Homo sapiens: one gene and its partners. The protein of the gene in region 4 interacts with the protein of the main gene of each other region in a pairwise test. Each region holds a gene or a part of one and is shown on either strand. Other genes may lie near its edges.

Region 1 (7,021 bases), on a different chromosome or scaffold from region 4:
CCACCACGCCTCCCACCCACGTCTTTTCACCAAGCTAGCAGACCCTCGGGGGTGGAAGCGTACGGGAGGATGTTAGAAACGCTTGGACACCAAAGGCCCACCAGAACCTGAGCTCCGTGAAGTCCAGACGCGGGAGAGAAGCCCCAGCTGCCTGTACGTCTGAGGTTGCTGGTCCTGGAATTCCCTTGGAATTCCCTTGTGGCCCCGACACCCTGAGTACCAGCTCTCCCAGGGTCCCCTTGGAGAGAACCACCCAGGCCTCCCTGCAAGCAAACGTCTCGGTGCGTGTGGCCTTTGTGCCAGTCAGCAGGCTTCTCCTGCCCTGTGGAACTGGGACCTCAGAATCTCAGAAGGGCCCGCATGGCTGCCATGGCCAGTGTCAGATGCAGCCCAGCAGAGAGGCCCTGGAACTCAGAGGACTCCCAAAGTCCGTGAGCACAGTGTCCTCAACAAAACCCCCCCTCACCACACCTTCCTCAACAAACCCCTCACGCCAACTGGCTCTGGAGGACTGTGTCCAATTGCGAGCTGCCTTGGATTTAGGTTATGGTCCTGAATGCTGCTGCCACCACCTCCCTGAAGTGGCTCACAAGTCCTCAGCCTCCGCCGGAGCCCCAAGTGCCAGACTCCCCCTTCAGCCGCACAGCCTGGGCACTCGGACCAAGCTGCCACCTTCCCTGTGCTTGCCGGGGCCAGGTAGGACACGTCTCACAACAGAGCCTTTTCCGGGGGCGCCCTTCTGCAGTGATTCTTGCAGTCCTGCACTCTGCTGTGTTCTGCTCACACCAGGCAGGGGGAGAGGGAGCGTGGCCCCTCTGGGAAGCTCCCAGGACGGCAGGGGTGGGTGCTGCCCTACAGATACAGTACCTGCTGCACAGGGAATGGACGCCTCCTGGACGGTGGCCCCAGCCCAGGAATGGCTGGGACACCCACTCCAGTCTTGCCCACAGTCTGCTTCCAGAGGACACTTGCCCCTGCCTCTCCCCACCCCCACCACGCCCTGCATCTCGCAGCCACCTGGAAGGAGATGTAGACCCCACTGTGGTAAGGAGCTGTTCAGAGCCCCCGGAGCCCTCCACTTCCTACCACGCAGACATCCTGCTGCTGTGCGACACAGATGGACCAGGGCTTGTCCTGAAGGTCCCAGGATGCACATTCCTCAGGGATGGCTACTCTCCTCCCCCTCCCTGTTAACAGACTGGTTTTCCATGGACTCCTTTAAGCCCCCAAGTCTGGCCTCTGGTCAAATTTCAAAGACATGATGGGGTGGTCTGTTAAGACTGAGTAGCTCATGTGGCACCAGGTGAGGGCTGCTCAGGCCTGCATTAAGGAGGGGAGCCCGAACAACGGGCCTCCCCCTTCCCCCCACCCACAACGAAGCAGCTGCTGCTGGCTCCTCTCCCAGAGACTGGAAGAGAATTGATGAGAACACCGGGGACCCAGCAGTTCCACTCCCAGGCCTAAATCTAAGAGGGCAAAGTCAAGCCTCCACTCAAAACCTTGTGTGTGCACACACTCCCGGCAGCAGGATTCACAACAGCCACGGAGTGGAAGCAGAGCCAGCTGTCCAGTGGAGGATGAACACACAGCGGGGAAGACATGGGCCGTGCAACCGCGGCTGCCACAGAGAAAGCGCAGGAGCAGTGCATGCTGCGTGAGAAGCTGGGCACCAGGCAGAAAGCAGAGTCCGGGAGCTGGGGGAGGAGGGGACAGCAAGTGCCTGCTCAATGGCCCTGAGGTTTAAGGTGATGGAGCTGATCTAGATAGAATTGGGGGTGATGGCTGTATAACTGGGAATACACTAAAATCCCTGACTTGTACACTGTGGCCACCTGAAGTGAACAGTACACGCTTTCTGTCTCAGTAAAGCTACGCAAAGAACAGCAGACATCCCGCATGAAGTCAGCTCTCCAGGGCCGCACCATGGGAGCTATGGGCTGGCAGTGGCCGGCTCTGCTCTTGACACACAGGAAGGATGCAAACTCAGAGCCCCAGTGGGGTCACGGCCTTGCCCGGAGAACTCCCTCTGGGGATGGCAGCCTGCCGTCCCCTTGCCTAGCCTGGATGCCACATCCCGCGGCAGCGAAGCAGCCTCCTGCTTGACCGTCTGGCCCGGGGACCCTTTTGTCTCCTGGGTCAGTTTCATTCTTTCCCCAGGCTGTGCTCCTGATGAAGCAGCATCGTAGCTGATGTTGAAGGGCCTCACGCCAGCACCTAGGCTGGTCTTCCCTGGGTGCCTGCTTGAGCACGTGGCCCAAAACAGCCGTTGCATGGGGCACTCAGAACCCACCACACCCTCGCCCCTTCCCAGCCCGCCACCCTGTGGCTGAGGCCCTGTGCCTTGAGCAAGCTGCTGCCCCTCCTCCTCCTGGTCCAGTTCTGCCCACACCTGGGTGCCCACCTCCCCTCCCTGTGGTCTCCAGGAGCTGCCCCCAACATGCCCTGGGCAGCAGTGCTCATCGTAGCCCCGTCTGTGGCCTGGACAGGCTCTGACCACTCCTGCGTTGGCACAGCTTCCTCGGGAGGCTCCTGCCAACACCACTCGGCACGGTGGGCTCAACACGGCAGCGGCAACGGGTGGGAGTACTTGCCTCTGCCTGGCCCGAATGGCGGTTTTCCATTTGGATTTGGGGATGAGCAGCCAATGAGCCTATCTCATTCCCGTTAACGTGAGAGAAACATCCAGACGCTATCCTCAGGTCTCACACACCCCCGCCGTGCTCTGCACCACACCTGGCAGGGGCACCCCCGACTGTATGCTGGGCATCAGCTCCCAGGCCCGAGCGCCTCACCTCACACTGGGGATTGGAGCCCTCAGGCCCTAGAGACACTGGCTTGAGAAACTTTTGAGATGGAGTCTCGCTCTGTTGCCCAGGCTGGAGTGCAGTGGCATGATCTCAGTTCACAGCAGCCTCTGCCTCCTGCGGGTTCTGGAAATTCTTGTGCCTCAGCCTCCTGAGTAGCTGGAATTACAGGCGTGTGCCACCATGCCCGGCTAATTTTTGTATTTTTAAGTGGAGACAGGATTTCACCCTGGTGGCCAGGCTGGTCTCGAACTGATAACCTCAGGTGATCCACCTGCCTCGGCCTCTCAAAGTGCTGGGATTATAGGTGTGAGCCACCGTGCCTGGCCAAGAAACTTTTTAAAGAAAAAGTTTGCTCAACAGATAAGCTGAACCCCAGTCAGCAAAGGGCTTTGTAAACTGTCCTTGGGATGCAGCTCAGAGAGGAGGGTCCTCAGAGGGTGAGGTGCTGCCTAGGGGGCACCTGCAGCCACAGCAGCACCAGGCCCACACCCTCCGCAACCTCCCAGCCTATCAGGGACCTGAGGCGCAGATGGAAGTGGAGTTGTGGACACAGCAAGGGCCTCCACTCAGCCAGAGAGAAAGCAAGCTGCCCTGAGCCCAGCTTTCCGTGGCATCGTGGCCTCAGGCAGGTGTATTGTGAGTCTTGGGCCCCATGACAACTTGGTTGGGCCGGGCCAGCCTGCAGGGGGCAGAGAACAGCCAAGGGCCCAGCCCTGCCCACTGATGCCACCCCTGGTGCAAAGTTCCCCCACCCCAGCGAGGAGGAAGGGCCGGATGCTAGTCAGCCTGTAGTGGGGTAGCAGGACAGAGTGGGGTGGTCAGTGGCACCTCTTCTGCCACAGTCCAGCCCGTGCTCTGGGCCGGGAAGCAGGTACGGACGCTGTGGGCGAGGGCGTGGCTGCCCGCAGGAGGGAAGCTTCTGTCTCCCCAGCCATCCTCCAACCCTGGACCCCACCATCAGGTCATATCCATCATTTCACCAAGAGGGAAACAGCCAGGGCCAGAGTTCCTTCACCAGTAGAGCGGTAGGGAGAACCTGTGCTTCCATCCTAAGGGACTTTACCCTGAATTGCCAGGGCCCTACACGGGCCAGAATCCCAGGCCCATCTGTGGCCAGTGGGACCCTATGTGGGCTAGAATCCCAGGCCCATCTGTGGCCAGTGGGACCCAGGGCCTCTGGCGTGTGAGCTCTGCAGCATGTTGGGAATGGTGGAGGGGGATGGCCAGAAGACAGCACCCCAGACCCTGCTGGTGGCCCAGGGGAGACACTGCAGAGAGCTGTACCCCTGTGAGGGGGTGGCACTGAAGGCACTCAGCCCAGCCTGGCACCCGACTGCCCTGACACCTGTCCCCTGACATGGATGCCGGCTGGCACGGGCCCCTCCTGCTTCCCACCAACAGGGCCTGGAACAGTGCTTAGGATTGACCGCGCCTCTACACACCATCTCCCCTCACAGACCTGGCAGAAAACACAGCTCCAAAGCTGTGGGGAGGGAGACGGGGAGGGAGACAGGGAGGGAAACCTTGTTTGCACCAGCACCAGGTACCCCAGGGTGGCCACTTCCAAGGAGCTCAGCTGGCATCCTCCAGGGTGGGTGGGACATGATGCTGCAGCTGACGGGACCTCCAGATTAGCCCCAGCTGGAGACCGGGCAGGACCAGGGCAGCATGTAGCACCCTGCGTGTCGCTAACTCATCCCAGAGGCCAGCTTGGCACTTGTCCCCAGCTTGTGCATTGACCCCCAGGGAGGTTCATTTAAAAGCACCCAAAAGTGTCAGTGCATTAAGCAGGCTAAAAATAGAACCCGTCCCTACACCTCCCACCCTGCCCACTGCTTGGCTGTTCCTAAAATAACCGCGCGCGCACAGCCACGCACACATCTCCGGCTGCGATGGGGAAAATCAAGTTGTAAGTGTGAGCTGGTATTTTGGTCCCAGCAGGAGCATAGGGGCTGTTCTCTGTGGGCTTTGGGGAACGGGGAGGCATCTTAGGAACCCAACAGGACAGACAGACGTCCGCAGTGGTTCCAAGGAGAGGCAGAAACAGGCATTGCCGCCCGGCAGGACGTGCCCCTTCAAAGGGGTGTCACGCGGTGACCCCTCTGGGGGTGGGGCTGGCAGGAGGAGAAAACCACAGCTCCCCTAGGTCAGGGGCAGGGACAGACACCGACCCCTGCCGCAGCGTCGACAATAAACCTACCAATGGTCCCCCCTGCCCGGCCCACACGCCCTGAGCGCCCCCTGCGGACACCCCCCTGCGTCCTCACACCCGAGGGGCAGACTGGCTTGCAGCACTTCTGTTCAGCACCACGCACTGCCTGGCAGCCACGAGCGAGCAGAGCCCTGCTGGGGTGAGGGCCTGGCCGTGCGCAGATCCTATGTAGCCACCGTCCCACAGCCCTTCATTCCCAAAGCCCTTCATTCCTGCAGCACTGGTCAAGGGAGCAGGGTGGGATTTGCAGAGTGAAGGTCCCTTCAAGGGGAGGCCAGCCCTGTGTGAGGCACCAGGACCCCCAGCCTCGCACACCGAGTCTAGCCTGGGACCCCCAGCCTCGCGCCGAGTCTAGCCCAGGGGGACGCTGTTCTTCCCTCCAAGCTGCCTGCCCTGGAGGAACGAATTTGGGGGGGGGGTGCTGGGTGAGGCTGACGGTGAGTTGCACACAGCGGGCCTCACGTGGGAGCCGGCTCCAACCCCAACACCCCCCATGGGTGAGAGAAACCTGGACTGGCAGCTCCCCCCAACCCCAGACCTGACTCCCAGCCCCAGGGCCAGCCTTGCCCCCAGCTGTTTCGCCTCTGGGTTCCTATCCAGGACACAGGACACTCAAGCGGTCATCTCACGGCCCAAGGCTACTGACCAGGGGCACAGACTCTTGGAGCAGCTGGGGTTGAGCACGTTGCGGGGAGCGCAGGGATCCCATGCTGCCTGGAAACCAGGAGTTTCGTGTGCTTTCTGGACAACCTGGGGGCAGCCTCTCACGGAAAGAGGTATGACACCTGCCCCACCTGGCTTCCTAGGGGAGGGTCCCAGCGACCTGAGGGCCACCACTCCCGGCTGTACCCCCACCCTACTCCACCCCTGGAGAGGAACAGGGGAGCAGTGACCTTGCTGGAAACCCTCAGGAAACACCAGGTCAGCAGAGAGGTGGATGTTGCCTCCACTGGGACCAGCCTGGTGGCCGCCCACTCACCGTACTGGACTTGAGCTCATCCCCATTCTCCTCGTCGGACTCTAGAGCGACAGGCAAGGATTTCTGGGGCGGGGAGAAGGTCAAGTCCCAACGCAGCAACCGGGGCTCGGCCCCGCCCAGCCGCAGGCTCGCCAGTTTCTGCACGGCGGGCTCCGCGGAGGAGGCCGGCCTGAAGTTCTCCTTGTTCTGGGCCTTGGACCGCAGTCTCTGCACCCCGAAGCCCCGGTCCTCGGGGCGGTGGTCGTCCCCCAAGCCCCGGCAGGCGCCGCCCTTGCTGTAGCGTCTTTTCTGGGGATGCGTCTCCATCCTCAGCAAGGGTTTCATCTCCATCCGGTAGTTGCTCAGCTTCTCCTCCTGCAGCTCCAGCAGCCTGGAGCCTCCGGGGCTGTGGTTGCTGGCCCGGTGGTGGGAAGTCCACGTGAACACGGGGGGTGACTCCGTCCGCCGCTCCCGCGGCTTGGGGTTCCCGGGCTGCTTGCGGCCCGAACCTCGGGTGCGGAAGTCATCCACGAGCAGGCCGCCGCGCAGGGCACCGCTGCGGACACCCCTGGAGCCCCCGGCCTGCTCCTCGCCCCAGCTGCTGCGGGCGCAGTCCCCGGCCCGGCCCTCCAGGAGCATCTGGATGTCCCCGCCCCGCTCCTCGTCCACCGACACCTGCCTCGAGAAGTGGGCGACCTTGTTCCTGGCGGCGGGCGCGGGCGGCGGGGTGGCCGCGGGGCTGGTGGGGAAGCTCTGCAGGGGGCTGTCGTCGGGGGTCAGGTCGGAGGGAGTGGTGCCCTTGCGGTACAGCTCGGGGCTCTCCTGCTGCAGGGGTGTCCCGGTGGACAGCACCTCGATGTCGTCACAGGAGGTCTGACGCTTCGGCCTCTGGTACTCCAGCCCTGTATGGGGACACAAGACGACGCCAGACGGCGTTACCCAGCACATTCCACAGCGAGGCCGCGGTCCCCGGGCCAGGGCGCCAGAGGGAACCTCAGGGCAGCAGAGGCGCTTCCCACTCACCGAAAGGCTGCAGGCAAGGGA
Region 2 (7,543 bases), on a different chromosome or scaffold from region 4:
TTCACTCCTGAGCCAGCGAGACCACAAACCCACCAGAAGGAAGAAACTCCGAACACATCTGAACATCAGAAGGAACAAACTCCGGACACGCCACCTTTAAGAACTGTAACACTCACCGCGAGGGTCCACGGCTTCATTCTTGAAGTCAGTGAGACCAAGAACCCACCAATTCCGGACACACCAGCTACTAGGGAGGCTGAGGTGAGGGGATCACCTGAATCCAGGAAGTCGAGGGTGCAGTGAGCCGAGATCATGCCGTTACACTCCAGCCTGAGTGACAGAGTGAGATCTTGTGTCAAAAAAACAGAACAAAATAAAACAAGAACGTTGAATAGGCTGTGTGTTAATTCTGAGATGGAGTCCAGACTTAAGAATGATCCTGAGGCTTAGACCCATATCCAAGAGGATGATTCCAGCCTGGCACTTATAGGTTCTTCAGGCACTTCAGATGCACCCTGTCCTGAATTAAGCCCTTTGTCCTTGAACCTGCTTTCCTTGGTAAACAGCACCAAGGGGGCTAGAAACCTGGGGGCTGCCCTTACCTTCCCTCTCTCACCATGCACCTCTAATGGGTGGCTGGACTTGTGGTTGCATTTCCGTGATCTCCCAGCTTTCTTCCAGTGATGGCCTTAGGTGGGCTCTTATCCTGTCTCCCAAATGGCCTCTCTGCCTTGAGTCTCACCCCATCTGCTCTCAGTCCACCCACTGAGCTATTCCAGAGACCATTCTGACTCCCTGTGGACACCCCTCTGGTGGCTTCTCCTCTCTGTCAGTTAGAAATTGCTTTTGACTGCATGTAACAAATGTGGTTACGCTATTTAACCAAATAAAGGTTTATTTTTCTCGTGATGAAAAGTACACAGATAAGCAGCCTACTTCCATCGATAACCATTGAGGGTTTCTTATGACTCTTACAGCAATGAAATGTGTATTTACAGTATAAAGATATACAATTTTAAGGTTTTAATATAATTGGGCCTAAGCACAGTATTTTTTGTTTTAGTTTTCAACTGCCCAGGTGATTCTATTGTGCAGCCAGGGTTGATAAACACTGCATCTAGGCCCAGTGCCTTTGATTTGCAGCTGAGGTCTAGAGAGAATTATTGAAACTGCAGTCCCAGCTACTTGGGAGGCTGAGGTTGGAGAATTGCCTAAGCCCAGCGGGGTGAGGCTGTAGTGAGTCAAGACTGCACCACCGCACTCCAGCCCGGGCGACAGAGCAACACTCCATCTAAAAAAAAAAAAATTTCTGGTCTACCTTTTTGCCCACCTTTTAACCACAGAGGTCCCCAAACATGAATTTTCACTCTCAGGAAGGCTGAAATGACACATTACAAGCGGTTTAGTCATCTGCACGTGCCGCCATCTGATTTAAGGCATCTATTCCTCCTCACCATTCCTGACAAAGTTGAACTGTCTACATGTGCCACATTCTCCTCTTTCTCTAATTCCTTCCCTCCTTCCCTCCTCCCTTTCTTCCCTCCCTCCCTCCTTCCTTCTTCTTTCTCTTTCTTTTTCTTTCTCTCTTTCTCTTTCTTTCTCTTTCTCTCTCACTCTCTTTTCTTCTTTCTGACAGGGTTTGCCTGTTCTGCTTCTTTAAACCCTGGGGTTCAAGTGCAAAGGTCCCTCTCATCTGATTTCCCTATTTTATTTTATTTAAGTTAGATACTCCACGATGATGATGATGATTATTGTTGAGACAGGATTTCATTCTGTTGCCCAGGCTGGAGTGCAATGGTGCGATCACAACTCACTGCAGCCTCAACCTCCTGGGCCCACGCGATCCTCCTACCTCAGCCTCCCAAGTAGCTTGGACTACAGGGGTGTACCACCATGCCCGGCTAATTACATGTGCCAGATTCAACCCACGTTCCAGGGTTCCAAACAACCAAGGCTCTATCATCCTGTCTTAACAAATATACCTTCATAAAGACCTGGAAGGCAGGTTGAAATGTGGAATTCTTGGACTTCTTTCAGTTCTACGTAGAAGGGTAGCAGTGGAGAGCTGGCTGCCTGCCCGCCCCTGGCCTTTCCTCCTTTCCCCACCCCTGCTCCTTGTGGCACTGGGCAGGGCCTACGTTCAAGGCTAGCAGTGTACTCAACAAGGGACAGTCCCTGTGTGGCCTGTTCAGGATCCTATACACAGGCTCAGGGCTCTTTGGGCAGGAAATTCCAGGATCCGGGTACTCAAGTGGTGTTCTAAACAGTGGTTCTTGGCCGGGTGTGGTGGCTCACACCTGTAATCCCAGCACTTTGGGAGGCCGAGGCTGGCAGATCACTTGAGGTCAGGAGTTCGAGACCAGCCTGGCCAACATGGTGAAACCCCATCTCTACTAAAAATACAAAAACTTAGCCAGGCATGGTGTGCACGCCTGTAGTCCCAGCTACTCGGGAGGCTGAGGCAGGAGAATCACTTGAACCCAGCAGGCGGAGGTTGCAGTGAGCTGAGATTGCACCACTGCACTCCAGCCTGGTGACAGAGTGAGACTCCATATCAAAATAAATACATAAATAAATAAAAACAGTGATTCTTAACTGGGAGTGATTTGGCAACGTCTGGAATTATTTTTGGTTATCCCAGCCTGGCAGGGAGGGACAGGGTATTACTGGCATCTAGTGAGTAGGGGCTAGGGATTCTACTGAACATCCTACAGTGTACAGGACAGCCTCCACAGCAAAGAACTGTCTGGCCCAAAATGTCCATAGTGCCCACATTCGATGCCCTGCATTAGGAAGATATAAATACTCTTAAATATCACAGAGTTAAATTCCTTACCCCTGTTCTAGCAGAGATGATATTCTTGCGGGGGGAGCATCTTCTTGGCTTCAACACATTCTTTTCTCCATGGGAGATGATGCCAGAAGAGGGACAGAACAGGGCCCAGTAAAGCATGGGGCCTGGGGCCAGGGACCCCCTTGTTCAGGTGTGACGACCATCCTACGAAGGCACCACCCAGGCATCATTAGACCGTCTCAAAAGAAGAGTAATTCACTGTCCCAAAGCAGCTCTCTCGTGTCTGTGGGCGGATCCCTTGGCAAGTTTACAATGAACTGAAATCTGCCGAACTTCCTGGAACCCAAAGAAACTTTAGCCTTGGGCAAAGGCCCTTTGGCCAGCATTTGCACTGTTTATGCAACCGTTTAGAATATACGAATTATCTGGAGACTACTACCAAATACAACAGGCAAAACTGCAAATATGTATACTTCCTAGAGGATGATAAAAAAATGTGAATTGTATTTCTCTGATAGAGGATGCATTAGAGTCTGAGGGTCTAAATAGCGTAAATAATAAATAAGTAAATAAATCGATAGTAGTGTACTCCAAACGAGGCTGGAATAGCTTCTATTGTTGTTTCACACTGGACTTCAATTAAGTCTCAGTATTTTGCCATACTCAATATTAAGTACTAGGCTGGACGTGGTGGCTCATGTCTGTAATCCCAGCACTTTGGGAGGCCGAGGTGGGTAGATGGCTGGCTTGAGCTCAGGAGTTTGAAACCAGCCTGGGCAACATGGTAAAACCCCATCTGTACCCAAAATACAAAAATCAGCCAGGTGTGGTGGCACATGCCTGTGGTCCCAGGTACTTGGGAGGCTGAGGCAGGAGGATGGCTTGAACCCAGGAGGTGGAGGCTGCAGTGAGCTATGATGGCGCCACTGCACTCCAGCCTGGGTGACAGAGCGAGACCCTGTCTCAAAAATCAAACAAACAACCCCCTCGCCCCGGACAAAAGTAGTTTGCACTATTTTCTCATTTCACAATATGTTTTTGAAATATTTCCCTTGAAAGGTAAGTCATATTTATCATTCCTGTTGTATGGAGGCATCATAAATTATTTCACCATTCTACCCTCCTTGAGTGTTGTGGCCTTTAGGCCAGACAAAAACGCAGGTGATGCCTAGAAGCCAACTAGTTGCCGTTTGGTTATCTGTAGGGTTGTGGCCTTGCCAAACAGGAAAAATATAAAAAGAATACCGAATTCTGCCAACCAAATAAGAAACTCTATACTAAGGACTAAGAAAATTGCAGGGGAAGAAAAGGTAAGTCCCGGGATTGAGGTGTAGCGACTTTCTATACCCTCAGAAAACTAAAAAACAAGACAAAAAAATGAAAACTACAAAAGCATCCATCTTGGGGCGTCCCAATTGCTGAGTAACAAATGAGACGCTGTGGCCAAACTCAGTCATAACTAATGACATTTCTAGACAAAGTGACTTCAGATTTTCAAAGCGTACCCTGTTTACATCATTTTGCCAATTTCGCGTACTGCAACCGGCGGGCCACGCCCCCGTGAAAAGAAGGTTGTTTTCTCCACATTTCGGGGTTCTGGACGTTTCCCGGCTGCGGGGCGGGGGGAGTCTCCGGCGCACGCGGCCCCTTGGCCCCGCCCCCAGTCATTCCCGGCCACTCGCGACCCGAGGCTGCCGCAGGGGGCGGGCTGAGCGCGTGCGAGGCGATTGGTTTGGGGCCAGAGTGGGCGAGGCGCGGAGGTCTGGCCTATAAAGTAGTCGCGGAGACGGGGTGCTGGTTTGCGTCGTAGTCTCCTGCAGCGTCTGGGGTTTCCGTTGCAGTCCTCGGAACCAGGACCTCGGCGTGGCCTAGCGAGTTATGGCGACGAAGGCCGTGTGCGTGCTGAAGGGCGACGGCCCAGTGCAGGGCATCATCAATTTCGAGCAGAAGGCAAGGGCTGGGACGGAGGCTTGTTTGCGAGGCCGCTCCCACCCGCTCGTCCCCCCGCGCACCTTTGCTAGGAGCGGGTCGCCCGCCAGGCCTCGGGGCCGCCCTGGTCCAGCGCCCGGTCCCGGCCCGTGCCGCCCGGTCGGTGCCTTCGCCCCCAGCGGTGCGGTGCCCAAGTGCTGAGTCACCGGGCGGGCCCGGGCGCGGGGCGTGGGACCGAGGCCGCCGCGGGGCTGGGCCTGCGCGTGGCGGGAGCGCGGGGAGGGATTGCCGCGGGCCGGGGAGGGGCGGGGGCGGGCGTGCTGCCCTCTGTGGTCCTTGGGCCGCCGCCGCGGGTCTGTCGTGGTGCCTGGAGCGGCTGTGCTCGTCCCTTGCTTGGCCGTGTTCTCGTTCCTGAGGGTCCCGCGGACACCGAGTGGCGCAGTGCCAGGCCCAGCCCGGGGATGGCGACTGCGCCTGGGCCCGCCTGGTGTCTTCGCATCCCTCTCCGCTTTCCGGCTTCAGCGCTCTAGGTCAGGGAGTCTTCGCTTTTGTACAGCTCTAAGGCTAGGAATGGTTTTTATATTTTTAAAAGGCTTTGGAAAACAAAAATACGCAACAGAGACCGTTTGTGTGACACTTTGCAGGGAAGTTTGCTGGCCTCTGTTCTAGGTCATGATTGGGCTGCAAGGGCAGAGAAGGTAGCCTTGAACAGAGGTCCTTTTCCTCCTCCTAAGCTCCGGGAGCCAGAGGTTTAACTGACCCTTTTGGGGATTTTTGAGGGCAGTGATCTTAACTTTGGGTGCACAGTTAGCTTATTTGAAGATCTTACTAAAAATACACCAGAGCCCAACCTCCGACCAATTACATCAAAACCTGTCCTAGTGCAGGGTGAGTATTGCTGTTTTTTGAAAGTTTCCAAAAGTGATTTTGATGTGCACCTACGATTGAGAACTGTCGTTTGAGGACAGTGGGTGGAGTTTCGTATTTGGAAATTAGAAGACCTGGAGTTTCCATTACACCGAATTGGCACTTAATAACTGTTGTCGGAGCATTTCTTAAGCCACATTTTCGTAAAGTGGCTTTAAAATTGCTCTGCCAGTAGGCAGGTTGCTAAGATGGTCAGAGACAAACTTCTGAACGACTCTTGTAAAATATACAGAAATATTTTCAGAACTTTTATCAGTAAAATTACAAAACGTGTTGCAAGGAAGGTGCTTGTGATAACACTGTCCCCAGAACCTTAGTGAAGTTACCAACTGGTGGAAAATTTTCTCTTGCACTCGGCTTAAAAATCATGAGGGAATATTTACTATACGAATGAGATTCAGTCTTTAAAGGGGTTTACAGAAACGTGAGAGGACAGGAACAGTTAGTCTGTGTAAATGTCTGAAATATATGTGAGGGAGATAATGAGTTTAGCCTTTTTCTTTAATAGGTCTCCAGATTTTCTGGAAAAGGTTCTTTGGCATTTGACTCCATTTTGCTGTTTCATTTGTCAGACTTCTTTTTGTCCCTCTTTACTTCTCCCCACATAATTCACCAGTACTAGTGTTTTGTTTTTCAGACCAAGTCTCGCTCTGTCGCCCAGGCTGGAGTGCAGTGGCGCGATCTCAGCTCACTGCAACCTCCGCCTCCCAGGTTCAAGCAATTCTCCTGCCTCAGCCTCCCGGGTAGCTGGGACTACAGGCGCGCGCCGCCACGCCTGGCTAATTTTTTATATTTTAGTAGAGACGGCGTTTCACCATGTTGGCCAGGATGGTCTCGATCTGTTGACGTCGTGATCCACCCGCCTCGGCCTCCCAAAGTGCTGGGATTACAGGCGTGAGCCACCCCGCCCGGCCACCAGTGCTATTCTTAAGACGCCTCTGAGGAATCCCTTCTCCCTGGCCATTGAGAATCCATGCATGAACCCAGGTTTTCCACCTTCCCTGAGCAGCTTGCATAGTTCCTTCTTTTAAGCGCCTGACTTCGTTTTGTTTGGTGCCCGTTGTACCTGAGAATGAGCCTTGGATAGTGGAGCATTCCAGCTTTCCAGATATGCAGAGATAATACATTGGCTATCAGCTACTTGGCTTGGCCTATTCCGTGTTTAAAATCTTGGACTCTTTGCTAGTTTTTACAGATCAGAATTTTTCACGTATTAATCCAGTTTTCCTAGCTTCTCTTGAAGAATTTTTGGAGATCTCTTCATACTGAGCCTTCATTAGCCCAGGACAGTACTGCTGTAGCAGTTCATATATTTTTTCGCTTCCCAGGCCTGTGTTATTCACTTAAGTTCATAGCCTGGTCCCTGCAGGGTTGTACCCGAGCACAGCTACTTAGATGTCCTGAATGTATTACCGGTTAAATGGAGGTTTCAAAGAACCTGCTGTTTTTGGCCCTGTGCTCTTGATAACAGAGTGTTTGAGGGACAACTTTCACATTTGAGTTTTTCCAAAATTAAAGGTTGTAGAAGAGTCACAGTATCTATTGTCAAAAAGAAAAGAATTTAAAAAGGCAGCAATTGCCAGGATACTTCATTTGAGCAATGATATTTTCCAGTGGAAAGTCACATCTTAAGGGTTAATGCCCCTTAACTGTTGGCCGTATTTGAAAACAAACCAAGCTAAAAACAAGAGACACTGACATGTTGTATGACGGTGTGGTGTGGATGTTGTGTTTATTTTAGTCCTGAGATCTAGTTGTAACTTCCTTGATTTCTGTATGTAGCCACGGAGCACCATTACCTGTCACCATTACCTGAATGGCTATACTGCTTGCTTTCATTTTGGTAGAGTGGAAAGGTTACCTAGGTTTCAGTGCTTGAAAAGATTTCAGAAAGCAGTAGTACGTCTGGTTAGACTAGAATCAGTCCTCTCCTGGGGGCAGTGGAATATAATA
Region 3 (7,021 bases), on a different chromosome or scaffold from region 4:
GGTTTTGGTAAGAGGCAACTGGGAGATCTGCGGATTTAATGGAGATGCAGCCTAGACTGTAGGCCTCCTGGTTTGCTGGAAAGAATTGGGGAATAAGACAGCTGGAAGAAGCCATTCTAGGATCAGAAGAAGGATCAAACATTGACCGCAGCATGGTGGCTCACGCCTGTAATCCCAGCACTTTGGGAGGCTGAGGCAGGCAGATCATCTGAGGTCGGGAGTTTGAGACCAGCTTGACCAATATGGTGAACCCCATCTCTACTAAAAATACAAAAATTAGCTGGGCATGGGGGCATACACTTGTAATCCCAGCTACTTGGGAGGCTGAAGCAGGAAAATCACGTGAACTGGGAGGTGGAAGTTGCAGTGAGCCAAGATCACGCCACTGCACTCCAGCCTGGGTGACAGTGAAGCTCTGTCCTGTCACAAAACAAAACATTGACCACAGACCTCTGAGGTGGTGGATGTCCCTCCTGTCCTGGTTGTATCATTATACATTGTATATTAATGTATCGAAATACTACAGGTACCCCCAACATGTGTACAACTATTATGAATCAATAAAAAACAATTTGAAAAGTAAGGTATGTGGCAGAGGTGGAAAAAAATGCTTTCCTCCAAACAGCCACAATTTGATTGTATCAGTTTGTAGAGTAAGAGCAAGTTATGCCTCAGTGTGTTGTTGAAAATAATAGAACAATATGCCACAATTAGTGGAGCTTCATAGCTGGGTGTGGTCAAGGAGAGAATAGAAGAGAACCCTACCAAAACCACTGTCATCCCAGGGTGACTGTGAGCATACCCAAAGCTGCACCTCCCTGAAGAGCAATATCATAGGCCTTAACACTTTTCAGGGGAAATGGATTTCACTCAAATAATCCAGCCAGTCGCTAAACAAATAAATAACAATTGGCCCTGGAGAGGGGGTACCAATCCCCAGAGTTGCTACAGTATATTATCTAAAATGTCCAGTTTCCAACAAGAAATTGTGAGACGTACAAAGAAACAGGAAAATATGACACATACACTGGAAAAAAGCTGGCAGCAGCAACTGCCTGTGAGACAAGGGGCCAAATTAATGAAAAAGGCTTCAAACTGGCCTATATATATATTCACAGTACTATATATATTCACAATACTAAAGGAAAATATGATGACAAAGAAGTAAAGGATGGTATGACACTGTTGCATCAATTAAAGAATATCCATAAAGATATAGAAATTATAAAAAAAGAATCAAATGAAAATTCTGGAGTTGAAAGTACAATAACAGCTGGGCGCGGTGGCTCACACCTGTAATCCCAGCACTTTGGGAGGCTGAGGCGGGCGGATCACCTGAGGTCGGGAGTTCGAGACCAGCCTGACCAACATGGTAAAACCCCGTCTCTGCTAAAAATACAAAAATTAGCCAGGCGTGGTGGCCGGCACCTGTAGTCCCAGCTACGCGGGAGGCTGAGGCAGGAGAATTCCTTGAACCTGGGAGGCGGAGGTTGCAGTGAGCCAAGATCGAGCCACTGCACACCAGCCTGGGCAACAGAGCAAGACTCTGTCTCAAAAAAAAAAAAAAAAAAAAAAAAAGTACAATAACAAATTTAAAAATTAACTAGAGGGACTCAGGACTCAATAACAGATTTGAACTGGGTGAAGAAAGAATTCGTTAATTTTTTTTTTCTTTTTGAGACAGAGTCTCGCTCTGTTGCCTAGGCTGGAGTGCAGTGGGGCAATCTCGGCTCACTGCAACCTCTGCCTCCCTGGTTCAAGCGATTCTCCTGCCTCAGCCACCGCACAGTGGCTTTGGGAGTACTCTGGGAGGCTGAGGTGGGTGGATCACCTGAGGTCAGGAGTTCAAGACCAGCCTGGCCAACATGGTGAAACCCCATCTCTACAAAAATACAAAAATTTAGTTGGGCATGATGGCGGGTGCCTGTAACCCCAGCTACTTGGGAGGTTGAGGCGGGAGAATTGCTTGAACCCGGGAGGCGGAGGTTGTAGTGAGCAGAGATCGTGCCACTGCCCTCCAACCTGGGTGACAGAGCGAGACTCCATCCCTGCCCTGAAAAAAAAAAAAAAGATGTGAAACACATACAAAAAAAAGTAAAATGGCAGTTGAATGCCAAGTAATTAGATAACTTCAATAAAATGGACAAACTCCTAGAAAGATATAAACCACCAAAATTGACCCAAGAAGAGACACTATCTGAATAGACCTATAACAAGTAAAGATATTAAATTAGTAATTGAGGGGACTCGTGGGGTAACTTGCCCTTGGGAACCAGTAGTATGGCATCGGGCTGCAAGATTGGCCTGTCCATCCTCAATGCTACCTGGCCAATTTAGGGGCCCAGTGCCTCTGGATGCTAGACTCTGGGGTCGATTATCTCCACCGGAATGTAATGGATGAACATGCATGTGATGGTGTCCAAGCCAGAACAGTGGGTAAAGCCAATGGCTATAAGAGGAGCCAATCAGTACATCTTTCATCTCGAGGAAACTGAGAACCCAGGGGCTTTGATTAAAGACATTCAGGAGAATGGGATGAAGGTTGGCCTTGCCATAAAACCAGGAACCTCAGTTCAGTATTTGGCACCATGGGCTAATCAACTAGGTATGACCTTGGTTATGACAGTGGAACCAGGGTTTGGAGGGCATAAATTCATGGAAGATATGATGTTAAAGGTTCACTGGTTGAGGATCCAGTTCCCATCTTTGGCTATAGAGGTCGCTGGTGGAATAGATCCTGACACTGTCCATAGGTGTGCAGAGGCGAAGCTAACATGATTGTGTCTGGCAGTGCTATGGTGAGGAGTGAAGACCCTAGATCTGTGATCAGCCTGTTAAGAAACATTTGCTCAGAAGCTGCTCAGAAAGATTCTCTTGATTGATGAAACCTTAAGGAGCCCAATGTTTGTTTATGAAATCTCCTTTTTACTGGAAAACAGGAATATTGACTACCAAATCATAGTGTAGTTGAAGCCATTCTGCGTTTTTGAGCAGTTATTCGTTTCAGTGATTATAATTGATTGTGCAGAGTATTCTAAGAAGTTAGAAATTGGTGTGTATAACTACATTTTCAGTGATGCAATTTAATGATTAGTGAGTGAGATACTGTTTTTATTGAGAGCCTTGATTTTTATAAAGAGTAAAAATATGGCTGCATTAAGGGTACAAACAGAAAAGTGTCTTAATGTCTAAGGAGGGCATATTAGCTACACTATAAAAACAATTTTTTTCTGTATTTCTGAAAAGAATTTTGTTGTTTCTCAGTTGTTTTCCAAAAGCAAAGGAAGTCTTAATGTTTTTTTCTATTTCGTGTTATGTGTGATTTGTTTATATGCTTGGTAATATGAGTCTAATGGAATTTAAAAATATAAGTTTGGGTAGGATAGTATACCCTTAAAAAATAAATAAATAATTAGAGAGAGAGAGAGAGAGAGAGACCTGGGCACAGTGGCTGTTGCCTGTAATCTCAGCACTTTGGGAGGTCAAGGCAGGAGGATCCTTTGAGGCCAGGAGCTTGAGACCAACCTGGGCAACATAGAGAGACCCCAACTCTAAAATATACATACTATATCTAAACTCAGCTAGGCGTGGTGGTGTGAGCCTGGAGTCCCAGCTACTCAGGAGGTTAAGGTGTGAGGATCACTTGATCCCAGGAGGTTGAGGAGGCAGTGAGCTATGATTGTGCCACAGTGCTTCAGCCAGGGTGACAGAGTGAGACCCTGTCTCTTAAAAAAAAGAAAAGAGGCTGGGTGCAGTGGCTCATGCCTGTAATCCCAGCACTTTGGGAAGCCAAGGTGGGCAGATCACGAGGTCAGGAGTTCAAGACCAGCCTGTCTAATATGGTGAAACCCCATCTCTACTAAAAATACAAAAATTAGCCGAGCATGGTGGAGTGCGCCTGTAGTCCCAGCTACTCGAGAGGCTGAGGCAGGAGAATCGCTTGAACCCGGGAAGTTGGAGGTTGCAGTGAGCTGAGATTGCGCCACTGCACTCCAGCCTGGGTGACAAAGTGAGACTCCATCTCAAAAAAAAAAAAAAAGAAGAAAGAAAAGCAAAGCAAAGCCCAGGCCTGTACCTACTAGAGGTCCTGATAACTTCACCACTGAATTCTATCAAACATTTCAAGAAAAATTAATACAGTTCTTCACAAAGTCTTCAAAAATGAAAAAGAGGAGAAAATACTTACAAACGAATTTTATGAGACTGGTATTACCCTGTTGCCAAAAACCAGGAAAAGACATTACAAGAAAAGAAAACCATAGACAAATATATCTTACAAATGTGGAAGCAAAAATCCTCAACAAAAATACTAGCAAACTGAATCCAGTAACATATAAAAATAATTATATACCATAAACAAGCAGGATTTATTCCAGGAGTGCAAGGTTGGTTTAACATCCAAAAATGAATTAGTGTAAATAATGTAATGCATTATATCAATAGAATAAAAAACAAAAATCACCTTGTCATCTCAGTAGACACAGAAAAAGCATTTGACAAAATTCAGCATGTTTTTCATGATAAAAACACTAAATAAACTAAGAAGAGAAGAGCAGTTCCTCAACCTGATACACAGCAGTTATGAAAAACCCACAGCTAACTTCATAATAGTGAGACTGAGGCCAGGCACAGTGGCTCACGCCTGTAATCCTAACACTTTAGGAGGCCAAGGTTGGAGGGATCACTTGAGGTCAGGAGTTCAAGAACAGCCTGGCCAACATGGTGAAACCCTGTCTCTACTACAAATACAAAAAAAAATTAGCCAGGTGTGGTGGTGCATACCTATAATTGTAGCTACTTGGGAGGCTGAGGTGGGAGGATTGCTTGAACCTGGGAGGCAGAGGTTGCAGTGAGCTGAGATAGCACTACTGCACACAATAGGCTGGGCGACAGAGCTCAAAACAAACAAACAAACAAACAAAATAGTGAAAGACTGTATGCTTATCCTTAAGATTAGGAAAAAGAGAGATAAGTCTACTTTCACTACTGCTATTCAGCATTGTACTGGAGGTTCTAGCCAGGGCAATTAGGCAAGAAAATGCAATAAAATACATCTATGTTGGAAGGGAACAAGTAAGATCATCTCTGCAGATGACATGATCTTGCATATAGACCCTGAGGAATCCACTACCAAAGTATTGGAACTAATAAATTATTAGTTTAGTAAGGTTATAGGATACAAGATCATTACACAAAACTTAGTTGTAAATGTATCCACTTGGAATGAACAATCTGAAAAGGAAATTAAGAAAATTCCATTTACAATAACCTAAAAAATAAAAATACTTATAACAAAAGAGGTATCTTTTTTTCCATCCTCTGACAGTTTAGTAAAAGAAAGTATAAAACTTATACTCTAAAAGCTGTAAAACATTTTTGGTTTTGTTTTTTAAATTAATTTTTTTTGAAACGGAGTCTCACTCTGTCGTCCAGGCTGGAATGCGGTGGCGCGATCTCGGCTCACTGCAACCTCTGCCTCCCAGGTTAAAGCGATTCTCCTGCCTCAGCCTCCGGAGTAGCTGGAGCTACAGGTGTGCACCACCATGCCTGGCTAATTTTTGTATTTTTAGTATAGAGGGGGTTTCACCATGTTGGCCAGGCTGGTCTCGAACTCCTGACCTCAGGTGATCCACCCGCCTCAGCCTCTGAAAGTCCTGGGATTACAGGCGTGAGCTAGTGCGCCCAGCCTGGCCTTTTAAAATATTTAATTAATTGATTTTTTTTTTTCTCGGACTTGCACTGAAGTGAGAACAAGTGCAGTGGTGCAATCATATCTCAGTGCAGCCTAGACCTTCCAGGCTTAAGTGATCCTCCTATATCAGCCTCCCAAGCAGCTCAGACCACAGGCATGCGCGATCATCCCTAGCTTTTTTTTTTTGTTTGTTTGTTTTTTAATTTCTTGTAGAGACAGAGTCTCCCTGTGTTACCCAGGCTGGTCTTGAACCTGACCTCAAGCAACCTCCCATGTTGGCCCCTCAAAGTGCTGGGATTACAGGTGTGAGCCACCGTGCCTGGCCTGTAAAACATTTTTAAAAGAAAGAAGATATAAATAAATAAATAAATAGAAAATAGCTCTTGTTCATGGATCATAAGACATAACGTTGTCAAATTGGCAGTATTTTGGAAATTGATCTACACGTTTGACATAATCCCTGTCAGAATCCCAGTTTATTTCATTGTAGAAATTGACAAGTCTCCAGGCGTAGTGGCTCATGCCTGTAATCCCAGCACTTTGGGAGGCCGAGGCAGGCGGATCACCTGAGGTCAGGAGTTCAAGACCAGCCTGGCCAACATGGAGAAACCCTGTCTCTACTAAAACTACAAAATTAGCCGGGTGTGGTGGCACATACCTGTAATCCCAGGTACTCGGGAGGCTGAGGCAGGGAATCGCTTGAACCTGGGAGGCGGAGCTTGCGGTGAGCTGAGATCACGCGCCACTGCACTCCAGCTTGGGCAACAAGAGCGAAACTCCATCTCAAAAAAAAAAAAGAAATTGACAAGTCAATTCATAAATTCCTATGGAATCGCAAGGGACCCACAATAGCTAAATCTTGAAAAAGAACAAAGCAGAAAGACTCACGCTTTGTGATTTCAAGACATACTATAAAACAACTAATCAAGACAACGTCACCAGGCACCGTGGCTTATGCCTATAATCCCAACACTTTGGGAGGCCAAGGCAGGCAGATCACTTGAGGACAGGAGTTCGAGACCAGCCTGGGCAACATGGCGAAATCTTGTCTCTACCAAAAATACAAAAATTAACCGGGCGTGGGGGTGCACACTTGTAGTCCAAGCTGCTTGGGAGGGCTGAGGCACAAGAATCCCTTGAACCCAGGAGGTGGAGGTTGCAGTGAGTCGAGATCGTGCTATTGCACTCCAGCCTGGGGGACAGAGCGAGATTCCATTTCAAAAAAATAAAAATAAAAAGACAGTGTGGTACTGGTATAAGGATAAATGTGTAGATCAGTGGCATAGAATTGAGAGTCCAGAAATAAACCCAGTGGAATAGAGTTGAGAG
Region 4 (7,715 bases):
TGCGTCTGTAGTCCAGCTACTAGGGAGGCTGAGGTGGGAGGATCGCTTGAACCCAGGAGGTGAAGGCTGTAGTGAGCCAAGATGGGGGCACTGCACTCCAGCCTGGGCCACAGAGTGAGACCCTGTCTCAAAAAAAAAGAAAAAAACTAAGGCACACAAAGGGTCCTTGGTCAAGTTCACCCGGCTGGTGAACACTCAGGGAACATCTATTATCATAGCATTTGAAGTTCCCCCAGTGCCCCTCTGGTCCCTGCCATCATTTCCAGCCCCCTCAGCCACCCATGACACCAGCAGGTCTTTCTTCTTGTCTACATGACTTTGCGTATGCCATTCCATCCTTCTAGAAAGCTCTTCCCTTCAACTTGCTCTGACAAACTCCTGCTCATCCCTCAAAGCCCAAGCTCCCATGTCCCCTCTCTCCGCCCCAGCCCTGGAGGGATGGAGGAGGCATGTCACGTGGTAAGGGCTCCATCCGTGTTTGTATATATTACTAATACCTCCTCCGGAGAGAGCTGTGCCAGGCTGGGCACCCCTCATTCCACAGTGACCTGGGCGGCTTCCTGGAGGAGGCTGCAGCACGTACCTCATCAGCAGCCGTGGCAGGCGTGTGCAGCTGGTGCAGCCGGAGCCAGGTGGCCTTGTACTTGTCCAGTTTCTGGCCTTTGTACTTGACAGAGGCCCAGCCACAGCCCGACTTCTTGGCAGGGTTCACCAGCTTCTTGCAGTGGGTGGCCCAGGCGCTGGGTGAGTTGAAGGTCTGCCCGGTCTCCTGCCACATGATCCTTCCGTCTGGCTGCAGGTCGCCCAGGAACTTCTTCCCCTGCAGTGACAGTCAGCTGGCTGGGCCCAGGACCAACACCCACCATGCCCTCTCTCCCGGGGGGTCCTCCCCAGACCTACGCTCCCTCAGGCATGTCTTTACAGGGCTTCCAGGAACACCTCTCAGGCCGGCTGCAGGGCCTCCTCAGTGCCTGGGAGTCCACACCCACAAACCTGATCAGCCTGCACCAAGCTGCCTGGCAGATATCTGCACCCCGCCCACCATGACCAAGAAACCCCTAAGATCGGGGATAGGGTCTGTCTGTCTTGATCACTGCTGTGTCTCCAGGATGCAACACTCAGCAGTTGCTCCATTCAGAAACTCCCATTCAGAAGGGGAATAATGTGCTACCATTCACAAATCAAACAATAATGACAACAGTAATAGTAATAATACAGGGCTGGGTGCAGTGGTTCACGCCTGTAATCCCAGCACTTTGGGAGGCTGAGGCGGGCGGATCACCTGAGGTCAGGAGTTTGAGACCAGCCTGGCCAACATGGTGAAACCCCATCTCTACTAAAAATATAAAAATTAGCCAGGCGTGGTGGCGGGTGCCTGTAATCCCAGCTACTCAAGAGGCTAAGGCAGGAGAATTGCTTGAACCGGGAGGCAGAGGTTGCAGTGAGCCGAGATCATGCTACTGCATTCCAGCCTGGGCAACAGCGCGAGACTCTGTCTCAAAAAAAAAAAAAAAAAAAAAAAAAGGCCGGGCATGGTGGCTCACGCCTATAATCCCAGCACTTTGGGAGCTGAGGCAGGCGGACCACGAGGTCAGGAGTTCAAGACCAGCCTGGCCAATATAGTGAAACCCCGTCTCTACTAAAACTGCAAAAAAAAAAAATTAGCCAGGCGTGGTGGCGCATACCTGTAGTCCCAGCTACTCGGGAGGCTGAGGCAGAAAATCGCTTGAACCGGGAGGCAGAGGTTGCAGTGAGCCGAGATCGAGCAACTGCATTCCAGCCTGGGCAAAAAAGCGAGACTCTGTCTCAAAAAAAAAAAAAAAAAAAAAGTACTAATACCTACCACAGATAAAGTGCTTACCATGTGGCAGGCGCCTGCTGAGGGCTTTATTCATTTAACCATCCCCTAATTTTCCCATGGTGGGGAAATATTCCATTTCACGGCTGGGAAACCACAGGAAGGCCGGGGTGTTGCCCATCTGACCCTGCGCGGGTGGTGGCTCCTCTCTGAGCCTCAGCTTCTCCTTTGTGGGATGGGGTGTTTGGTAATCTACGTCCTCCCCACCAGAAGGACCCATCTGTGCCTCAGATTCCTCTCTCCACATGGGGCTTGTCCCGTAAAAAGAGCTCCGGGCCTCAGTGTCCCCTCCACGGGAGCTCCTCCTGCAGGAAAGGAGCTCTGGGCCTCAGTTTCCCCTCCCCACACTGGGGCTTGTCCTAAAGCAAGGGAGCTCTCCAGGCCTCAGTCTCCCTTCCTCACACCGGGGCTCTTCCTGCCGCCAAGGGAGCTCCGGGCCTCAGTCTCCCCTCTTCATGTCGGGGCTCTTCCTGCAGCCAAGAGAGCTCCGAGCCTCAGTTTCCCCTCCTCACACTGGAGCTCTTCCTGCAGTCAACGGAGCCCCGGGCCTCAGTTTCCCCTCGCCACACCGGGGCTCGTCTCTCAGCAAGGGAGCTCCGGGCCTCAGTGTCCCCTCCCTACACTGAAGCTTGTCCTGCAGCAAGGGAACTCCAGGCCTCAGTTTCCCCTTCCTGCCCGAGCCGCGATGGGACGAGGGAGGCGGGGTGCTCACCAGGTAGTAGATGGACAGCACCCCGGCGCCAGGCTCCAGCAGCGCGTCTTTGAGGAGCACCCGCAGTGTGACCGCGCGCCTGGTGAGCGCGCCCCCGGGCCCGCCGCAGCCCCCCGCCCCGGCCCCGCCGCCGCCGCCTCCTCCGCTGACGCTACTGCCGCCGCCGCCACTGCGTCCACCGCCCGCTCCCGCATTCGGCCGCTCAGGGTCCTCGGCCTCCGCTTCGTCCTCGTCCTCCTCCGGCGCCTCCTCGCCCGCACCGCCCGCCGGGGACAGCGGCTCCGGAGCTGCGGACAGCGAGAGGCTGCAGGGAGGCCGCTCGCCCCACGGCTCTGCAGCCCCGCGCCCCTGCAGCCCCGCGCCCCGCGCCTCCGCCCCGCTGGGCCCGCCGTACCTGCCATGGCCGCGCCTCCCCGCGCCCGGAGCTCTAGACTCCGGCTTCCCGGCACGTCACGCGGCCCCGCCCCGGGGAGGGGAGGGGCGCCCCAACCATTGGCCGTCGCCGGGGTCGGGGGAAGGGCTCGGCGCGCTGGGGTGGGCGGAGAAACTGAGGCCTCGGGGATGCCCACGCGGGAGAGAGATCGGGAACTCAGCCCTCTGGGAACATTCGGGAAACTGAGGCGTGACGGGGTGTTGACCGGGAGCTCATTGGTGCGAATGGGGAAACTGAGGCCTCGCTGTCCAGGGATAGAGGTTGCAAGGTGGAAGCCTGGGGCGGGTGCGCGAGTGGCTCAGCCTGCTGCAAGGAGAGGAGAAGGTGAGACCTGCGGTCACCGCACTTGAGGAACTCAGAGGCCTCGGCCTTTAGGACCAGGGGAGAAACTCAGGTCCAGGGGAACAATGCGGACTCCAATAGGGAACAGCCTCGCGCAGACACAGGTGGAGCCAAAGAGCCCAAGCCGGCCTCAGTCGCTAAAGAATTAACTCCCACCCTCCCGGGCGGCCCTCGACTGATTCCATGATTGGACCGTTGCGGAGCCCGCCAGCCAATGATAAGAGTCCCATTTATTTCACCCTCAACCAATCGATAGCAAGCTACTGGATTCCCGCACCAACCAATCCGTGTCAACTATCTGATTACACCAACTCGGATTTGACCAATGGGCAGACGTCCATGTAAACCAATCAGTAGAAACCCTTAGTTATGAGCGCAAACCATCAGAGGCAGGGACTGGACTCACCAGCCAATCAGCTCCGGGTATAAGGCCAGCCGAGTCCGGCCCTCCATACCCTTGGGCGGAGCAGGAGGCAGGGCCGGGCTCGTTGCGCGCCTGATCAGTGCAGCCCCGGCCTTTGTCCCCTACCCTGTTTCTGCAACTACATCCCCGACCCTGTCCTGGGACCTTCGTCCCGGAGCCCAGGCTCTGGGATTTCCCTCAGTCCCTGGCAGGGTTGAAAGTCCGGGATGGGGACTTCCTAAAGCTCCGGGACGCCGTGGGATGGGCTCAAGTGCGGGTGGCTTTGCCCAGACCGCAGTCGGGAAGTGGGAACTGGACAGTAGGGGTGCGGGGGAGGCTCTCCAGGGTGCTCGGGAATGTTCTCAGGAAGAAGACTTGACATAGAGCAAGAGCTGGGTACATGTGAACTATTGTTGTCCAGCCCAGGCACCCTTTAGGGGCCCCACCCTGACTGTCCAGCCAACAACGGGCATCCCCAAGGCCTGCAGACTCAGCATAGCCCAAACCGGCCTCAGTTTATTTCCCCAACTCCTTACGCACTTTCTCTTTGGCTTTTTTTCCGTCCCCTGCCTTCCAAAACCCTGAGCCACACCTCCAGCCTCTTGCACCCAAATCCTGGCCATCGCAGTGAGTCTCAGGCCTCCAAACTCATGCCCCACCCTGTCGGTCTTCCACCATTGCCCCAGAGGGCTCTTTCTAAAATGCACCTATTACCACCTCCCTCCCATATTATTATTTTGTTTTCTTTTCTTTTCTTTTTTCTTTTTTTTTTTTTTTTTTTTTTTTTTTTTTTGAGACGGAGTCTCGCTCTGTCACCCAGGCCGGAGTGTAGTGGCAAGATCTTGGCTCGCTACAACCTCTGCCTACCAGGTTCAAGCGATTCTCCTGCCTCAGCCTCCCAATTAGCTGGGACTGCAGATGCACATCACCACACCCAGCTAATTTTTGTATTTTTAGTAGAGAAGGGGTTTCACCATGTTTGCCAGGCTGGTCTCGAACTCCCAACCTCAGGTGATCCACCTGCCTCAGCCTCCCAAAGTGCTGGGATTACAGGTGTGAGCCACTGCGCCCAGCCTATTTTCTTTTCTTTTCGAGACAGGGCCTTGCTCTATCTCCCAGGCTGGAGTGCATTGGTGTAATCATGGCTCACTGCAGCCTTGGCCTCCTGGACTCAAATGATCCTCTTGCCTCAGCCTCCAGAGTAGCTGAGACAACAGGCGTGACCAGCATGCCTGGCTAATTTTTAATTTTCTTGTAAAAGAAGGGGATCTCACTATGTTGCCCATGCTGGTCTCCAAGTCCTGGCCTTAAGCAATCTTCCCACTTGGGCTCCCAAAGTGTTTGGATTACAGGCGTGAGCCACCGCACCCTGCCCTCCTCTCATGCTGTAAATCCTTCTGTCGCTCCACATTGCCTTAGACAAATACAATAAAAACTAACCACCCTGGCTGGGCACAGTGGCTCACGCCTGTAATCCCAGCACTTTGGGATCACTTGAGGTCAGAAGCTGAAGACCAGCCTGACCAACATGGTGAAACCCCATCTCTAATAAAAACAAAAAAATTAGCCGGGGGTGGTGGCAGGCACCTGTAATCCCAGCTACTCCAGAGGCTGAGGCAGGAAAATCGCTTGAACCCGGGAGGCGGAGGTTGCAGTGAGCCGAAATCATGCCACTGCACTCCAGCCTGGGCAAAAGGAGCAAAACCCTGTCTGAAAAAACAAACAAACAAAAAAACGAAACAAAAATCAACTCTCTGACCTTACTTAGTATAGCTGATACTATCAACTTTATCAGACAGTTCAGTGGATGAACACATTGCCACAGTCCCACGGCCTTTCTGTGATTTCTAGAACACCTGTTCTGCTATGTATACAAAGTCTAGCCCTGGTAACTACTAAGGAAATTGAATTTGTAATTTAAAAACTCCCAAAAAAGCAATCTCCAGACCCAGATGGTTTCACTAAGGAATTCTGCCAAAGGTTCAAAGAAGAATTAACACCAATTTCACATCATCTCTTCCAGAAAATTGAAGGGGACACTTCCCTGTTCATTTTATGGAACTATGACCCTGATACCAAAACCAGATAAAGACGGTACAAAGAAAGCAAGCTACACCCCATATCCCTCATGAAGACGTGCAAAAATCCTTAACAAAATATTACAAAGTAGAATTTAACAATATATAAAGTGAATTATACACCATGACAAGTGGGGTTTACTCCAGGGACCCAAGACTGATTCAGTATTCAAAATTAATCAATTGTCCACCATATTAAACAGGCTGTGGTAGGCAGAATAATGGTCTCTTAAAGATATCCACGCCCTAATTCCCAGAATCTGTGAATACGTTAGGATACGTGGCAAAGGGATTTGAAGATTAAAGATAGACGCCAGGCACAGTGGCACACACCTGTAACCCCAGCACTTTGGGAGGCCTAGACTGGAGGATCACTTGCACCCAGGAGTTCAAGACTAGCCTGAGGGCCGGGCACGGTGGCTTATGCCTGTAATCCCAGCACTTTGGGAGGTCGAGGCAGGTGGATCACAAGGTCAGGAGATTAAGACCATCCTGGCTAACACAGTGAAACTCCATCTCTACTAAAATAAAAATACAAACAAATTAGCTGGGCATGGTGGCACGTGCCTATAATCCCAGCTACTCGGGAGGCTGAGGCAGGAGAATTGCTTGAACCTGGGAGGCAGAGGTTGCAGTAAGCCGAGATCGCTCCACTGCACTCCAGCCTGGGTGACAGAGTAAGACTCTGTCTCAAAAAAAAAAAAAAAAAAAGACCAGCCTGGGCAACATAGCAAGAACCTGTCTCTAGTAAGTGTAAAAATTAGCTGGGCGTGGTGGCAGGCACCTGTAATCCCAGCTACTTGGGAGGCTGAGCCAGGCGAATGGCATGAACCTGGGAGGCGGAGCTTGCAGTGAGCCGAGATCACGCCACTGCACTCCAGCCTGGGCTACAGAGCGAGAGTCTGTCTCAAAAAAAAGAAAAAAAAAAATTAGCCAGGTGTGGTGGCATGCAACTGTAGTACCACCTACTCTGGAGGCTGAGGCTGGAGGATCACTTGAGCCTGTAAGGTCGAGGCTACAGTGAGTCATGATCGCCCCACTGTACTCCAGCCTAGGCAACATAGTGAGAACTCATCCTTAAAAAAGGAAAATAAATTAGCTGGGTGTGGTGGTGCCCACCTATAGTCCCAGCTCTTCGGGTGGCTGAGGCAGGAGGACCGCTTGAGATTGGGAGGTCAGGGCTGCAGTGAACTATGATCGTGCCACTGCACTCCAGCATCGACAACAGAATGAGACACCGTCTAAAAAAGAAAAATTGCAGATGAAATTAAAGTTGCTAGTCAGCTGACTTTAAAATAGGGAGAGTAGCGTGGATTATCCAGGTGGGCCCAATGTAATCATTAGGGTCCATCAAAGTAAGAGAAAGGGCCAGGTGTGGTGGCTCATGCCTGTAATCTCAGCACTTTGGGAGGCTGAGGCGGGCAGAAAACTTGGGGTCAGGAGTTCGAGACCAGCCTGGGCCAACATGGGGAAACCTCGTCTCTACTACAAATACAAAAATTAGCCAGGCGTGGTGGCGGTCACCTGCAATCCACGCTAGTCAGGAGACTGAGCTTGGACTCAGTCTCTGAACCCGGGAGGCAGCGCAGTCTCTTGAACCCGGGAGGCAGAGGTCGCAGTGAGCCAAGATCATACCACTTTACTCCAGCCTGGGCAACAGAGTGAAACTCTGTCTCAAAATAGGAAAAATAGATAAATAAATAAATAAAGAGACAGACCATGTCTCTGTCTTTGCAGATATAGCGAAGATTATTCTCCCATTCAAGTAGACTTATACATTCTCTCTGTTCTCAGTTCCACACCGGAGAGGCGGGGATTTCCCTAGGATCACTGGACCTGCTGGGATCAGCCTCTGCCCAGCCCTGGCAGGGGAGGGAGTTGACGGGCTG

Evidence for each region.
Region 1: the proteins of MPND (region 4) and JPH3 interact in binary tests that used the Homo sapiens proteins (3 or more experiments, as listed by UniProt).
Region 2: the proteins of MPND (region 4) and SOD1 interact in binary tests that used the Homo sapiens proteins (3 or more experiments, as listed by UniProt).
Region 3: the proteins of MPND (region 4) and NF2 interact in binary tests that used the Homo sapiens proteins (3 or more experiments, as listed by UniProt).

What each region holds. Positions count from the first base shown.
Region 1 is NC_000016.10:87,689,504-87,696,524, reverse strand, and holds part of JPH3 (junctophilin-3), read right to left. Parts: intron 6,880-7,021; coding exon 5,999-6,879; intron 1,889-5,998; exon of another isoform or gene 384-1,888; intron 1-383. UniProt on the Homo sapiens protein: Junctophilins contribute to the formation of junctional membrane complexes (JMCs) which link the plasma membrane with the endoplasmic or sarcoplasmic reticulum in excitable cells.
Region 2 is NC_000021.9:31,655,158-31,662,700, forward strand, and holds the start of SOD1 (superoxide dismutase [Cu-Zn]), read left to right. Parts: upstream 1-4,535; 5' UTR 4,536-4,612; coding exon 4,613-4,684; exon of another isoform or gene 4,685-4,867; intron 4,868-7,543. UniProt on the Homo sapiens protein: Destroys radicals which are normally produced within the cells and which are toxic to biological systems.
Region 3 is NC_000022.11:29,606,620-29,613,640, forward strand, and holds part of NF2 (merlin), read left to right. Parts: intron 1-7,021. UniProt on the Homo sapiens protein: Probable regulator of the Hippo/SWH (Sav/Wts/Hpo) signaling pathway, a signaling pathway that plays a pivotal role in tumor suppression by restricting proliferation and promoting apoptosis.
Region 4 is NC_000019.10:4,338,850-4,346,564, reverse strand, and holds the start of MPND (MPN domain-containing protein), read right to left. Parts: upstream 3,004-7,715; 5' UTR 2,972-3,003; coding exon 2,965-2,971; intron 2,858-2,964; coding exon 2,571-2,857; intron 821-2,570; coding exon 584-820; intron 1-583. UniProt on the Homo sapiens protein: Probable protease. Acts as a sensor of N(6)-methyladenosine methylation on DNA (m6A): recognizes and binds m6A DNA, leading to its degradation. Binds only double strand DNA (dsDNA) in a sequence-independent manner.